2 separate regions of the Homo sapiens genome follow, and region 2 is linked to region 1. A link means that fine-mapping ties the variant in region 1 to the expression of a gene that starts in the linked region. Tissue or cell type: sigmoid colon. Region 1 holds a variant in brackets; the other region holds the start of a gene. All regions are shown on one strand. Distances are between the middles of the regions.

What was found. PIP is the estimated chance that this variant, and not a neighbour inherited with it, causes the effect.
Region 2: it holds the start of PRMT7, and the variant in region 1 is fine-mapped to the expression of PRMT7 in sigmoid colon (GTEx, PIP above 0.99). The same link has a PIP of 0.9 or more in esophagus muscle and tibial nerve.

What each region holds. Positions count from the first base shown.
Region 1 is chr16:68,388,978-68,391,657 of GRCh38, forward strand. The region is part of intron 1 of SMPD3 (sphingomyelin phosphodiesterase 3); the gene reads right to left. Among named protein-coding and RNA genes, the nearest start is that of SMPD3, 58 kb to the right of the region's middle. RefSeq lists an enhancer at 1-712 and a silencer at 1,529-1,823. The variant C/T (reference allele first, on the strand shown) is at 1,219.
Region 2 is chr16:68,309,515-68,312,194 of GRCh38, forward strand. PRMT7 (protein arginine methyltransferase 7) reads left to right here and starts at 1,505. Exons shown (of 19, transcript NM_019023.5): 1 at 1,505-1,585; 2 at 2,528-2,662. SLC7A6OS (solute carrier family 7 member 6 opposite strand) reads right to left here and starts at 1,432. Exons shown (of 5, transcript NM_032178.3): 1 at 1,221-1,432; 2 at 821-1,099. The coding sequence starts at 1,412. RefSeq lists an enhancer at 437-1,401.

The sequences.
Region 1 (2,680 bases):
TCTCAATATACTCCCAGGCAAGCAGAATCAGCTCCTGCCTCCAACCCTGCTCAGCATCATCATTCAAAACGCACCGGTAGGAAATGGTGAAACAGAAGAACCTTTCATCCCGGCTGAGCAGGGCCTGCAATGCTGCTCTCCTGGCTCTGGCAGCTGGCTTGTGCCTGGGCCGAGTCAGGCCTCTGGCTTAAATAGGCAGTAGGAGCAGAGCAGGGAGGGCCTGGGGGGCGGGTGTGGAAAGTGGGCCGTTTACCTAGCACAGCAAGGCAGTGTCTGGAGCCAGCAGTGGTCCCAAGCACGCTCCTGCCTGCCTGCCTGTCCACCAGGAGGCCTCAATCCCACAGGCCCCAAGACCACAGACCAGTACCTGGGGTGACCCCTGATGGATGTGCAGCTCCACGGGAGATGTCCCTAGATGCACTGAGCTTGGTCAGTTTCCTGGATACCTCCACCTTTCCTTTGTAGCAGAACCAGCTGTGGAGATGGATGGACCTGTTCCCTGGGGCCTCTCTCCAAGCCTCAGTTGCTGCCTTCTTAAAATGAGGATAACACTGACTTCACAGGTCCAGAAATAATGTTTGCAAAGGGCACCTAGGAGGTTGATTTATTTACCCACATGGTGATACTGGGGCCAGGTACCTTCGATGAGGCTGGAGCCTAGAGGTTTAGTAATGTACCCAAAGTCACACAGCCTTCCATCTGACTGTCAGTGTCAGACCTCATGCAGACCTGGGGCCTCCCAGCCTCATGCTACAGTTGAAGTTTGGGGTGAGTGAGAGTGAAGAGCAGCTGCTCACCTTGGGGAAAAATCTTGACTGAACCCTAGTGAAGGGGTTACCTTTAAGTCCCCAGTGTTATGGGAAAGGGGTCCTGATCCAGACCTCAAGAAAGGGTTCTGGGACCTTGCACAGGAAAGAGTTCAGGGTGAGTCCACACAGTAAAGTGAAAGCAAGTTCATTAGAGAAGAAACAGAAGGATGGCTACCTCATTGACAGAGCAGCCCAGAGGGTGCTGGTTGGCTATTTTTATGGTTATTTCTTGATCGTGTGCTAAACGAGGGGTGGATTATTTATGCGTTTTCCAGGAAGGGGGTGGGCAATTCCTGAAACTGAGGGTTCCTCTCCTTTTTAGACCATATAAAACCAAGGGTGACTTCTGGAACATTGCCCTGGCATTTGTAAACTGTCACGGCGCTGGTGGGAGTGTCTTTTGGCATGC[C/T]AATGCATTATAATTAGCATATAATGAGCAGTGAGGACAACCAGGGTTGTTTTGTTCACCATCTTGCTTTTGGCAGGTTTTGGCTAGCTTCTTTACTGCATCCTATTTTCATCAGCGGAGTCTTTGTGACCTGTATCTTGTGCTGACCTCCTATCTCATCCTGTGACTAAGAATGCCTAACCTAGGCTGGATGTGGTGGCTGACGCCTGTAATCCCAGCACTTTGGAGGCTTAGGCAGGCAGATCTCTTGAGCTCAGGAATTTGAAACCAGCCTGGGTAACATGGTGAAACCCTGTCTCTAAAAAATATACAAAAACTAGCTGAGTGTGGTGGTGCATGCCTGTAGTCCCAGCTACTTGCGCTGCTGAAGTGGGAAGATCGCTGGAGCCCAGGAGTTCAAGGCTGCAGTGAGCTGTGATGGCGCCACTGCACTCCAGCTTGGGTGACAAAGTGAGACCTGTCTCAAAATAAACAAACAAAGAATAAGAATTCCTAACCTTCTGGGAATGCAGCCCAGCACGTCTCAGCCTCATTTTACCCAGCACCTATTCAAGATGGAGTTGCCCGGTTCAAACACCTCTGACAACACCACCAAGGCAAGGAGGGTGCCATGGTTGGACAGGCATGGTCAGGCAGCCTGTCTGCATTTGGGTGAGACCCTGGGGGAGAGGTGCAGAAGTATCCCAGAGTAGCTGCTAGGGATGGCTGGTGAGAGGAGCTACCCTTCAAACCTCCTAGATCTCCAAGTAACACTACAGGGTGGTGAGTGGTTGGTTCAACTTGATCTTCCAGTGAGGTGGACAGTGCCCCCACCTCAGTGAACAAAGATTAGGACATAAGCTAATGGGGAATTAAGACAAAGCTGTAGTTCGTCATTTTATGCTTGAAAAAATTCTGCCCTTAAAAGTGCAAGTAACTCTGCTAGTAAATAATTGAAGTCACATGAGGGAGTTGTCTTTAACAGGAAAGTACACATTTTGATTTTGATTAACAAAATGTTAATTCCTCATTTCCCCCAAAGAAGCAGCAAAACAGAGGGCCTGGATCTCTGTTAGTTGGACTCAGAAGGGAGATCAACTTGACTGTAGATACTGAAGAAGATGAAGTTGAAGATATGATTACATATGAAGCCCATTCATCTGCCAGTCATTAATTGTTGTGTATATTGTGGACCTGACATCCTTTCAGAAGTTTGGACTACAAAGGTGGGAGACACACTTGGAAAGACTGTGCACTTCAGAGTCCAATCTAGGTTCAAATCTGGCCCTGGGCAACACTGGGCCTTCACTTAGTCTCTCTGAGCATTGGGTTTCTACTACTTTGCAAGGCTGTTGGGAGAATTAGATGAGATGATATTGGTGACAACTCTTTGTAGGTATTCAGTGATCAGTTATCCATTTGGAAAGATAATTCTACAGGGAGCATGGGGTGGGCAGGAGGGGAGACAAGCAGGAAGGCCAGT
Region 2 (2,680 bases), 79 kb before region 1:
CTACTGTGCCCAGCCTCAAGGAGAATTTTCCATTTCTGTAGTTTTGCTGCATGTAGTAGACTTTTTTTGGAAGTGATTGCAAATGAAGTTAGCAAATGTAATATAAAGAAAAGCACTGGATTAAATGTGAGAAAACTTGCATTCTAGACCTAAATCTACCTCAAACTTGATATGCTATCCAGGACTATTCCTTTAACCTCTCTTTGATCAATTTTCCTACCTGCTCTATCTCTATTTTGCTCCAGTGATCCCCATCTCAGTCAGGGTGAAAGGCAATGTCCTTGCAAGTACCTAGCAGGCATCCTCCCCTCAAATTCCTTACTGCTCTCCTCTAGCTCACCGGGCTCCAGGCACCTTGCAAGGAGCAAAGAAACGGCTTAAGGGCCTCTTTACTTTCAGGTTCTCTGCCTAGAAGTCCTCTCGATATGTGGAATACCCTGCCATTCACCTTCTGCAAGTCTTCACTCAAATGTCATTTCCTCAGTGACACTCTCACTGAAGTGGCACCACTCTTCCTGCTTTGTCTCCCCGCCTCCTTACATCCCTTATCATCATCTGACACTGAATAGACTTGTTTACTGTTTCTGTCTACCTGCATGTTAGGTCCTCACTGCTGTATCCACAGAATCTAAAAAAATACCTGGCATATCGTAGGCACGTAGTAAACACATGTTGGATGAACAACCAAATCTGTAAAATGAGGCCGTCACGCCGGATGGATCATCCATCCCCTTAAGATGAAACTGTGCTGCGACTGGGCCCAGTCTTCTTGCATTACCATCCTGAGAAGCCCAGCGACCACCTTCAGGGGCATACTCACTTTGCAGGAGCCTGCAGAGGCGGCTTCAGGTTCTCCCTCCTCGTGGACAAGGTCTAACAACTGAAAGCCCGAGTTCCCGGCGGCTTCTGGGTTCCCCGGCGTGTACTCGGACTCCTGGCCGCTCGAGGTGGTCCCCAAGGATCGGCGGCTGGAAAGCACCCGGTAGCGGCCCTCCTGCCGGACCTCCCGAGCCGAGGCGCGGAGATTACGGCGGACACGCTGCTGGCTGTCCCGTGACGGGCGCAGAACTTCCCGCAGGAGAGGCTGGACTGGTTCCTCCTAGGGGGCAACAGGGGACGGAGGCCAGCGTAAGCAGGAGTTCGCGAGCGGGTCAGGGATCGGGTTTCGTACCGGCTGCACCCGAAGATGCCCTCCACACCAGCTGCACCACGCCCAATACCTGGGAGCACACAGTGGCCACCAAGTGGAAGACATTATTCTCCGCCGCTCTCTCCAAACCCTCCGACGTCTTCTGTGCCGCTGACTCGACCGCGTCGCTCCGGAGGCGTTTACAAGCGAGCACAAGAGCCTCCGCCGGCTCCGCACTGCGCTTCCGCTTCACCCGGAGTACAGCGGTCCTGGCGGCCTCCATAGTGGCTGCCGCTGAGCACTGTGGGAGCTCGCGGGGTGTGATGGGATAGCTTTCCAGTTCTGCTTTAGGACCCGCCCCCCAGCACGCTCCTCGACGCTGCGAGGTCCCGCCCCGCGTGCTGGCCGCGGTAAAAGTGGTAGCAGCGGAGGCGAGCGGAGGGTTTCCCGCGGCGGGTGAGGCGCTGGGTATGCTGGGAAGGTGGGGTCGCTTTGGGGTTCTGTGTGCAGCGAGCATGGTGTCCTTGGCACCAGGGTTTCGGCAGAGGAGCCTAGCGTGGGCCTACTTGGACTCCTCCGCGTGGGGCAGCTCGGGACACCCGGGCCTGCAGGAGAGCGGGGTTCTAGGCTGGCCCCGGCTCTGCAGTGCAGCCGGGTGCCTGCCACTCGCGGGGCTCTGTCGCAGTACTCGTGCCTGGCGCCTCCCCTCAGCCACAGAGACCGCAGTAGCTCCAACCATCGCACCCCTAACTGGGCCACGAGTTCTCTGATTGCCAGACCTGTTGTCTTTGCCACTCACTGTTCTGAGTAATTGGAGAGTCGTGTATTCACTACACGCCAACCAGAGTGGTCCTGTAAAAGCGTAAGCCTAGTGTAGATACGCTTCTGCTTAAAACTCTTGAGTGGCTCCCAGTGCTTTTAGAACAAAATCCAAACGCCTTTCCGAAGTCGACAAGGCCCAGCTTGATTGAGCAGAAGATGTGATAGGAGATGAGGAGCGGGGGGCTTCTGCAAAAGTGCTTCGGTCGCTCAGGCTTTTGGCACATTTTGCTTATGCAACCTAGTTCTTTCTACCTTAGGGCCTTTTCTTGGGAAAGTTGGGGTAAGGATTCCTGACCTGTAAAAACTCTTCCCCAACTTTTATCCCGGTCTGTCTTGTAGATCTCAAATGCTAGTTTCCTCAGAGTCCTTCTGTAACCTTGGTTTTCTCTTTCTACAACGCTCTGTGTATTTCTTGCATTCATGTAGTCTGTAATTTGTATTACTCTCTCATTAGAGTCTAAGCTCTTGGAGGGCAAGGGTCTTCTCTAGCTTGTGGTGGTGGCTCCAGTCCCTAATATAGTGCCTGGCACATAGAAGGTATTTAATAAATTTTGTTATTTTATTTTTTCGAGACAGAGTCTCACTCTGCTGCCTAGGCTGAGTGCAGTGGTGTGATCGAGGCGCACTGCAGCCTTGACCTCCTGGGCTCAAGCGATCCTCACCTCGGCCTACCGAGTAGCTGGGACTACAGGCACGCGCCACTACACTCGGGTAATTTTTAATTTTAAT